Linked DNA regions of Homo sapiens: region 1 is linked to region 2. Evidence: fine-mapped expression QTL. A gene starts in region 2. The other region holds a variant in brackets. All regions are shown on one strand. Distances are from middle to middle.

Evidence for each region. PIP is the estimated chance that this variant, and not a neighbour inherited with it, causes the effect.
Region 1: its variant is the best candidate, but not a certain one, in a credible set for the expression of PYM1 in testis (GTEx, PIP 0.86).

The regions. Positions count from the first base shown.
Region 1 is chr12:55,894,619-55,899,994 of GRCh38, forward strand. No RefSeq gene overlaps it. Among named protein-coding and RNA genes, the nearest start is that of PYM1, 31 kb to the right of the region's middle. The variant C/T (reference allele first, on the strand shown) is at 3,211.
Region 2 is chr12:55,925,669-55,931,044 of GRCh38, forward strand. PYM1 (PYM1 exon junction complex associated factor) reads right to left here and starts at 2,226. Exons shown (of 3, transcript NM_032345.3): 1 at 2,057-2,226. The coding sequence starts at 2,093. It also overlaps a transcript of DGKA not described here. RefSeq lists a silencer at 1,168-1,317 and enhancers at 1,336-1,916, 1,408-1,627, 1,668-1,837, 1,917-2,497.

The DNA.
Region 1 (5,376 bases), 31 kb before region 2:
GTGAGCCACTACACCCAACTGATGTTTTTACTTTACAAACTTTTAAATTTTTTGTTAACTTTTTGACTCTTTTGTAAAAAACACTTAGCTTAAAACAGAAACACATTGTACAGCCGTACAAAAATATTTCTTTATATCCTTATTCTATAAGCTTTTTTCTATTTTTATTTATTTACTTATTTATTTTGAGATGGTGTCTTGCTCTGTTACCCAAGCTGGAGTGCAGTGGCGTGATCTCGGATCACTGCAACCTCTGCCTCCTGGGTTCAAGCAATTTTCCTGCCTCAGCCTCCTGAGTAGCTGGGATTACAGGCACACACCACAGTGCCCAGCTAATTTTTTTGTATTTTTAGTAGAGACCGGGTTTCACCATGTTGGCCAGGCTGGTCTTGAACTCCTGATCTCAAGTGATCCACCCGCCTCGGCCTCCCAAAGTGCTGGGATTACAAGGCGTGAGCCACCACGCCCGACTCTTTTTTCTATTTAAAAAATTTTTATTTTATTTGTATTGTATAAACTTTTTTGTTAAAAACTAAGACATGGGACAGGGCGCAGTAACTTTTAGTAATGTTTTAGTAACTTTTAGTCTCCACTAAAAATACAAAAAAAAAACATAATTGGGCGTGGTGACACACGCCGTAGTCCCAGCTACTCAGGGAGGCTGAGGGAGGAGAATTTCTTGAACTCAGGAGGCAGAGGTTGCAGTGAGCCAAGATAGCATCACTGCACTACAGCCTGGGTGACAGAGGGAGACTCCATCTCAAAAAACAAAACAAAACAAAAACAAACAAACAAAAAAAAAACCCCTAAGACATGGGAGCTGGGCGTAGTGGCTCATGCCTGTAATCCCAGCACTTTCGGAAGTTGAGGTGGGCTGACTGCTTGAGCCTAGGAGTTTGAGACCAGCCTGAGCAACATAGTCAGAACCCATCTCTAGAAAAAAATTTAAAAAATTAGCGGAGTGTGGTGGCACATACCTGTAGTCCCAGCTACTAAGGACGCTGAAGTGGGAGGATCACCTGAGTCCAAGGATTTAAGGCTGCAGTAAGCCGTTATCGTACCACTGCACTCCAGCCTAGGTGACAGAGATCCTGTCTCAAAAAAAGAAGGCCGGGAGTGGTGGCTCATGCCTGTATCCCAGCACTTTGGGAGGCCGATGCAGGCAGATCACTTGAAGTCAGGAGTTAGAGACCAGCCTAGACAACATGGTGAGACCCCGTATCTACTAAAAATACAAAAATTAGCCAGGCATGGTGGTGCACCTGTAATCCCAGCTACTGGGGAGGCTGAGGCAGGAGAATCATTTGAACCCGGGAGGTGGAGGTTGCAGTGAGCCTAGATCGTGTCACTGCACTCCAGCCTGGGCAACAGAGCAAGACTCTGTCTCAAAAAAAAAAGAAAATTAACTGAGCATGATGGAGTAAGCCTATGGTCCCAGCTACATAGGAGGCTGAGGCAGAAGGATCACTTGAGCCCAGAAGTCAAGGCTGCACTTAGCTGTGTTTTCACCACTGCACTCCAGCTTGAATGACAGAGAGGTGCTGCCTCACAAAAACAAAAACAAAAGCTAACAGACATATTAGCTTAGGCCTACACAGGATCAGGATCATCAATATCACTGTCTTCCACCACCACATTTTGTCCCACTGGAAGGTTTTCTGGGGCAATAACACACATGGTGCTGTCATCTCCTATAACAATGCCTCCTTCTAGAATATCTCCTGAAGGATCTTCCTGAGGCTGTTTTACAGTTAACTTTTTTTTTTTTTTGAGACAGATTCTCGCTCTGTTGCCCAGGCTGGAGTGCAGTGGCATGAACTTGGCTTACTGCAAGCTCTGCTTCCCAGTTCAAGCAATTCTCCTCCCTCAGTCTCCCGGGTAGCTGGGATTACAGGCGCGTGTCACCACACCTGGCTAATTTTTGTATTTCCTAGTAAAGAGGGGGTTTCACCACATTGGCCAGGCTGGTCTCGAACTCCTGACCTCAGGTTATCCACCCGCCTCGGCCTCCCAAAGTGCTGGGATTACAGGCATGAGCCACTGAGCCTGGCCAATAATGGTTTTTAAAGTATAGATTCCTGTAAGATATCTAAATTTACAAAGCATCAAACATCTCTGTATAAGCCAATTAAATCTCACATATAAAATCTCTATAATTTTATAGGGATCCTATGAAAGGGAACTCAGGCTGCTTTTGGTCTCACACTTGACTGGGGTGCTCAGTCAAGTACTCATTAACTGTTCAGCTGTGCGTGAGGCACTAATTATCCCCCATCTTCTGTTCTGCACATGACTTGCAGCCTCATTCAGTCAAATATTTGAGAATGTACTATGTCAGGGACTGAGGATGCAATGATGATAAATACAATCCCAGGGCTTGAGGAGTTCATAGTTTAATAAGGAGGAGGGCTGGCTGGGCACAGAGGCTCACGCCTGTAATCCCAGCACTTTGTGGGGCTGAGGCTGGCGGATCACCTGAGGTTGGGAGTTTGAGACCAGCCTGACCAACGTGGAGAAACCCTGTCTCTACTAAAAATACAAAAATCAGCCAGGCGTGGTGGTGCATGCCTATAATTCCAGCTACTCGGGAGGCTGAGGCAGGAGAATTGCTGGAAGCCGGGAGGCGGAGGTCATGGTGAGCTGAGATTGTGCTCCAGCCTGGGCAACAAAAGCAAAACTTTATCTTAGAAAAAAATAAAAAATAAATGCTACTACAAAAGTTAAGTTTGAGCTGGGCGCAGTGGCTCACGCCTGTAATCCCAGCACTTTGGAAGGCTGAGGCGGGCACTCACTTGAGGTCAGGAGTTCAAACCCAGCCTAGCAAATATGGTAAAACCTGTATCTACTAAAAATTAAAAAAAAAAAAAATTAGCCAAGCATGGTGGTGCACGCCTATAATCCCAGCTACTCAGGAGGCTGATATAGGAGAATCGCTTGGACCTGGAAGGTGGAGGTGACAGTGAGCTGAGATCACGCCACTGCACTCCAGCCTGATGACAAGAGTGAGACTTCATCTGAAAAAAAAAAAAAAAAAAAAGAAGCCAGGAATGGTGGCTCACGCCTGTAATCCCAGCACTTTGAGATGCCAAGGCTGGTGGATCGCTTGATGTCAGGAATTCAAGACCAGCCTGACCAACATGGTGAAACTCTGTCTCTACTAAAAATACAAAATTAGCCAGACATGGTGGCACACACCTGTAATCCCAGCTA[C/T]TTGGGAGGCTGAGGCAGGAGAATCACTTGAACCTGGGAGGCAGAGTTTGCAGTGATCTGAGATCACACCATTGCACTCCAGCCTGGGCAACAACAGCAAAACTCCATCTCAAAAAAAAAAATAAAAAAAAAAAAAAGAAGAAGGCTGGGTGTGGTGGCGTGAGCCTGTAGTCCCAGCTACTTGGGAGGCTGAGGCAGGAGAATCACTTGAACCCAGGAGGCAGAGGCTGCAGTGAGCCGAGGTCGCGCCACTGCACTCCAGCCTGGGTGACAGAGCAAGACTGTCTCAAAAAAAAAAAAAAGTAAGTTTGGAGTTAAAAAGGAAGCAAATAAAGGTGCATAAATTAACATTTGAGAGTACAAGGCAGGCGGATCACCTGAGGTCAGGAGTTCGAGACCAGCCTGGCCAACATGATGAAACCCCGTCTCTACTAAAAATACAAAAATTAGCCCGGTGTGGTGGCACACGCCTGTAATCCCAGCTACTCAGGAGGCCGAGACAGGAGAATCACTTGAACCTGTGAGGCAGAGGTTGCAGTGAGCCAGGATCATGCCACTGCACTCCAGCCTGGGTGACAGGGTGAGACTCCATCTCAAAAAAAAAAGACTTCAAGACCAGCCTGTCCAACATGGTGAAACCTCGTCTCTTACTACAAATACAAAAATTAGCTGAGCATGGTATTGGGTGCCTGTTACCCCAGCTACTCAGGAGGCTGAGGCAGGAGAATTGCTTGAACCTGGGAGGCGAAGGTTGCAGTGAGTCAAGATTGCACCACTGCACTCTAGCCTGGGCAATAGAGCAAGACTCCATCTAAAAAAAAATATATATATATATATATATATTTATATATACACATATTATTTGTGTGTGTGTATATATACATATATATGTGCATATATATACACACTATATATAGTATATATATATACACACACATATATATGTATGTGTATATATATGTATGTGTGTGTGTGTATATATGAATAAAGGAAGGCTTCCCAGAGAGAATAACATTTAAGAGAGCCAAAGGCTAAGAAAAAGTTCATTAGGGGCCAGGCTCGGTGGCTCACGCCTGTAATCCTAGCACTTTGAGAGGCTGAAGCAGGCAGGTGGCTTTAGCTCAGGAGACCACCCTAGGTAACATAGTGAAACCCCGTTTCTATCAATTAAAAAAAAAGTTCATTAGGGGGTCAGGAAGTGTTCTAGGCAGAGGGACAAGCAGAGGCAAAGGACTGAGACTCAGACAGAATATGGTTCATCTGAAGAACTGAAAGAAGTTCAGTATAGCTGCAGCAATGAGTTTGATCAGAGTTGGAGAATGGAAAGACATGACGCTGGAGTTAAGTAGGGCCAGATTATATGTGAGCTTATGAGTCAGGCTAAGAACTCTGAACTCTTGAGATAGTTCATTACAGCTGACTTCCCACTCCTTTCATCTCCACCCCCACAGCTAGCTAGAGAAAAAGGCTGCGATAAATGAGGGTATGGAAACCAGAGGACATGTAAAAATTAAGTGACAGATCTTTTGGGTGTAAGTTCCTCTACATGTATCACTAATTTGCCCCACAATGCCATCTTGGGGTGGCATCTAAGAAGGTGAAATTTCAAAAGAGTTGTCCTAGGTGCAGCTGTGAAATAAGATTATCTTCAGAAACAGTAAGGAAGGTACAGAACTCCCGTTGCTATTCAGCACACTAATGGCAACATATAAATTAACATGTCAAGTTAAATTTGTTCTAAGTTTCATTTGATTATAACACTAATTCGTCTACTGAAGTCTCAGCAAACATGCAGAAATTAGTGTTGCTAATTTGGTCATAAACTCACAATTTTTAAAAATTAAATACCTCTGGCCGGGTGCAGTGGCTCACGCCTGTAATCTCAGCACTTTGGGAGGTTGAGACAGGTGGATCACCTGAGATCAGGAGTTCGAGACCAGCCTGGCCAACATGGTGAAACCCCATCTCTACTAAAAATAAAAATAAAAATAAAAATAATTAGTCAGGCGTGGTGGTGCACGCCTGTAATCCCAACTACTCAGGAGGCTGAGGCAGGAGAATCGCTTGAACCCAGGAGGTGGACATTGAAGTGAACTGAGATCATGACACTGCACTCCAGCCTGGGCAACAAGAGCAAAACTCCATCTCAAAAAAAAAAAAATTAAA
Region 2 (5,376 bases):
TAGATCAATGATCTGGACATAGTAAAGGAAAACAAAAAAGCAGTTTATTCCTTTTTCTCTTCCACATAGTCACGGAAAACAGAAAACAGCTTTTAGTGACAAGGTAAGGTAAGATGTGATACCTGGATTTTCACGGAGTCAGGGTAAAGAAAATGATTAAGAGTAAAGAGAAGTATACTGGATAAGTAGTATTTTCAAAACACACATTAAAAGTTGGTAATTCATGAAGGAGCTACTGGGTAGAGAACAGAAGGAAAGAGGTAGTACCACTTTAAATTGTGAGGTTGGGGAGAAGTAGCAGCAACCTGGGTTGTCATCAGATACCATAAAATAGGTGGGCTGAGGTGTAAGGAACATGGAAAGCAGCAGAGCAAGAAGCAAAATGGCACATTTTAAAACACCGTGTGTACCAAGGCACAGGCACACTGTTGCTTCTACAGACTACAGACTACACATATGAGGGCTACAAAAACAGAAACACTTTGCACTTGCACAGTATTTTATAAATTGCTTTTACATATATTATTTGATCATCATTGAGTAGCTATTACTACTATGCATATTTTCCTAAAGATGAGGCCATTAGGAAGGGACAAAACCATGATAAAAGCTGTGATTCTCCGTTTCCAACACATACACCTTACATACACAGCAGACACTTCAGCATCTCGGCCAGCCAGGCTGCAAATTCTTCTCTAGCCAGAAGGAATAGTGGGTTTTATTCACTTGTCAAAGGGCTTCGGAGAAAAGCCACTAGATACTTTCCTGTTTGCCTTTTCCCACCTTAGACCCCTCAATTTCTATCACCATCACGGGAGAAGGTAGCGAAGGGTGGCTCCATCAGGGAGAAAACTCAAGCTGAAAGTTGTATTAGGGTCCTCTTCCCTTCACACCTCTAAACCTCAGTGACCCAACAAATGAAGATACGGGAGAGGAAAAGGTACTATGTAGAAACGAGGAGGTCTTCAGCAAATAAAGCTTCGAGAAAAATAATGAAAACGGGACTGGGGTAGGGCAGAAACCAAGTATAGCTGAGATGGGGGAGGGGAAAAGAAGGAGGGCAGGAACTGGAGGGAAATGAGAGTGTAGAAGCCCCCAAGCCTGAAGAACCTAAAAGAGATATGAGTGGTCCAACTGCTGGAGAAAAGCTAAGGGCCCGTGAGGGTCCTGAAGCAGGGACCAGCACTGAAGGACCCCAGGGTTTGGGTGACCGGAAGCAGAGACCCCAAACACGAGACCAGAAGGGGGCGCAGGAGACACCCCGTAGGAGAGAATGAATGGGGAAGGCGGTCCGGGGGGCGGGGCAAAGGAGGGGCCCCGGGATGGGCGGGGCACAGACCCCTTTCCAAGTCCGAACCCCTGCCCCGAGAGCCCGGAGAGAAGCGGCTCCGCGCCTCCCGCACTCACCGCCGGTCTCGTCAGTAACATAGGGAGTCGCCATCTTGAAAACGCAAACCACTTCCGGCGTGAGCGGGCTGGGGTCCCGCCCCCCTCCCCACCGGAAGTGGAGTCCCGATCGTAGCAAGCCACCATCTTAGTCTTAAAGGGAGAGTGCACCATTTCATGGGCGGAGGTGGAGGAGGAGGAAGAGTGGAGAAGCTGAAATAGTTAATAAAATAAAGCCGTGGGCTTTTTACTGCCACCGATACCATTACTGAGCGCTTGCTGCCTGTAAAACAGTCCTCAGGGAGCCAAGAGAAGTTCCGAGGCACAGTCCCTCTCATCCCCAGGAACTCCTCGTACGTCCAGGACCTGCGAGGGAAAAGGGCGCAAGGCCCACCTGCACCCAAAAAGGGGGCCTTATAAATGAAGAAAGGAAGAATATCCAGGCTCTGGCCTGCACCCAGATCTCAGAGCGGCTTGGTGACGTGGAGCAGACAAACTCCAGGAACGCACTGGGGCGCACAAGTGTTTCTAGGGACGGTTGGAGACCCTATCTAACCCTAAGAAGGTGGGGAGGTCGAATTCGTGTGCCGATTGCTGTCGGCCAACCCACTCAACCACCAGAGACCCGCGGGAGGGGCGTGCAAGGCGGAGGGCGCCGCGGGTCGGTCACCTGTCTCCGTAGCCGCAGGGCTGCCGGCAGCTTCCATGGCCGAAGAGGCAGCGGACCAGGTTGGGCGGGCGGCCCTGGCCTGGCTCTGCCCCGCTGGGCGGCGCCGGGGATTCGGCGGCGAAGTGATGAGGGCCCTAGTTGCTTCTCGCCCAGACCTCCTAACCCTGAGTGCCTCCTCGGGCTGGGCCCTAGGGTCAGAGGGCAGGGTGAAAGCTTCTGGGCGGACCTACTTAGTATTCTAATTAAACTCGTCCAACCGCTGAGGATCTAAAGCGGGGCAACTCGCCAATAATCCGGTCCCGTAGTGTCACTCCATTTGTAGTCCTGCCCTGCGCCGTACCTCCCTATTCTGCAGACGAACCCATATGGTCTCCCTCCGCCGCCCATTTCAGCAACTGTTGTTCCTTCAGGGCTAAGTCCTGTTAAACTTGTTTCCCCTACAGCCTGAGAGGAGCCCGGCTGCAGGTTCCTCTCCTCAGGTGTCAACTCTGCCCTCCTCCACCCTCATATAGCTTTTTCCTTATCAACCCTTTTACCTTCCTGCTTATATCCCCACTTTGGCTTAGTTTAATGTCCAGCAGTACCCCTGGAACCAGGGAGGAGGCAGGAGGTAAGTATTGGTGACTACCTCCAACACTAGGCAGCATGTCCCATTTAAAAAACAAAACAAAACCCAGGCGCGGTTGCTCACGCCTGTAATCCCAGCACTTTGGGAGGCCAAGGCGGGTGGATCACGAGGTCCGGAGTTCAAGACCAACCTGGCCAAGATGGCGAAACCCCGTCTCTACTAAAAATACAAAAAAATTAGCCGGGCGTGGTGGCGGGTGCCTGTAATCTCAGCTACTCGGGAGGCTGAGGCAGAGAATTTCTTGAATCTGGGAGGCGGAGGTTGCAGTGAGCCAAGATCGCTCCACTGCACTCCAGCTTGGACGACAGAGTGGGACCCCGTCTCAAAAAAAAAAAAAAAAAAAAAAAAAAAAAACTAAAAAACTGAGCAATGGCTGACTAGGACCTTTATAAGACAAATTAGGCCTCAGAAGTTTTCTGGGGGCCGCAGCTTGCCTTCCTTCCCATCCTCCATGTCTGTGACTTCCACTAGAGGCCAATTCAGAATGTCTGGGGGTGGGGCTCATTTAAAAAGTATTTCCAGGCCGGGTGCGGTGTCTCATGCCTGTAATCCCAGCACTTTGGGAGGCCCAGGTGGGCAGATCACTTGAGGTCAGGAGTTCGAGACCAGCCATGGCCAACATGGTGAAATCCCATCTCTACTAAAAATACAAAAATTAGCCGGGTGTGGTGGCGAGTGCCTGTAATCCCAGCTACTCGGGAGGCTGAGGAATGAACCTGGGAGGTGGAGGTTGCAGTGAGCCAAGATCGTGCCACTGCACTCCAGCTTGTATTATAGAGCAAGACTCAGTCTCAAAATAAATAAATAAAAAGTATTTGCATACGATACACTGTTATTGCAAGTGTTGTGACACTGTGGTCTTAAACCCTTGCTCTCTTTTCACCGATTGTACTTCAGCCCTGCAGGGTCTAACATCTTGTCCTTAACCTTGTTATGATTAGACGTGAGAGTGTGGGATGAAGCCTCTAAGAACTAATGGGATACGTTGGTCTTGACTGAACTACCTCAGGAGTGGTCTCTGCAGCTTTCAGAGGCTGCTCAATAGACCTTTGTGCAGGAGGGAAACCTAAAGTCGCCCCTGTTCACTACCAACCCTAGGCCCCCTTCCCACCCCCAGACATCCTGCCTCAGCACTAGGGTTGACAGGAAGTGAAACTCAATTGTCTGCTTAGTAGACCTGCCTGGGACCCAACCCGGGGCCCCGGATGTGGCCCCCCACCCTGAGGAGGAACAGGGCAAAAAAGGCCGGGGAGAACAGGCTGTTGTTTTTTCCTTTCCCTTTGTTCATTGCGGTTTCTTTCTTTCTGATTTTTATGATGTGGTTGATTAAAGAAATGAGCACCTGGAACCGTAGGCATTAAACGCCTCCTTCTTAGATGTTTCTTGGCTTTTCTTCCCCCACCCACACCCCCCAGTAACTGACTTGGGGTATGATGGAGCACAGATCCTAAAGAAGACACAAAGAAGTCTAGAGTAAGACTGATTCCACCTTATTCCTTATTCGAGAGATAACATTACACCCCACTTTGAAGTACCAAAAACTATCTTAAAAGGAGTGTCTTCAACTTTATTTAGGGACATATCTAAAGACGATAGAGTGAGAAACACAGGTAATACATAGGGTGGCATTACTTTGAGCATTCTTTGCAAGGAAAGCTGAGTGCCTTAGAGATTAATATCGTTCCAAGATTTCTAAATGAAAGATCCAGGGACAGAAAACTGATAGGCAGAGGTGTTAGGGGACCTATTCTTACATTGTATGTTTGTTTAAAGTAGCTCAGAGCAGAGAGGCTTTACACACATTGCACCACTCATTGATATAGTCCCTAAACTGGACTATGTTTTTGCTTGTATTGCAGAACTAAGTACAGGACTTAGTGTATAAAAGGCCTTCAGAAGAGTTTGTTTACTATGACTAAGGAGGTCATAGAGGAAGGAGAGATGAAGCTTTGCTAACAGTGAAGAAAATACTGTAAAGACAGGATGGGGAGTGTCAAGGGCCTTGTTTTTTTTTTTTTTTTTTTTTTTTTTTAGACAGAGTTTTGCTCGTGTCACCCAGGCTGGAGTGCAGTGGCATGATCTCGGCTCACTGCAACCTCTGCCTCCCAGGTTCAAGCGATTCTCCTGCCTCAGCCTCGCGAGTAACTGGGACTACAGGCATGTGCCACCACGCCCGGCTAATTTTTTGTATTTTTAGTAGAGACAGGTTTTCACCGTGTTAGCCAGGATGGTCTCAATCTCCTGATCTCGTGATCCGCCTGCCTCAGCCTGCCAAAGTGCTGGGATTACAGGTGTGAGCCACCGCGCCCGGCCTTTGGCCCTTGTCTTTTTATGATTGGGGGTGAGAGGGTGAGACTTGGAGGGGCACAGGAGCAGAGAGACAGACCCCTCTTCAACCTATGCCCGAAATCTCCAGTTTGGATACAACAATACTCCCAAACCCTATTACTCAGCAGCTATATTTCTGGCAAATGTGGAGGAGTCTGTTCCAACAAGCCTGTCTTGAAACAATCAAGAACTGCTTAGATATCCCTGTTTCCACTAGAGGGCCTCATGTATTCATTCCCTTTCCAACCCCCACCAAAAGTATGTATATATTATGTGTGTGTATGTATGCATACACAATACCCACACATGCATATACCCTTCTAGTCAGAGGTCTCCCCTCCCCCTTCTTCCCACCCCCAGGTGT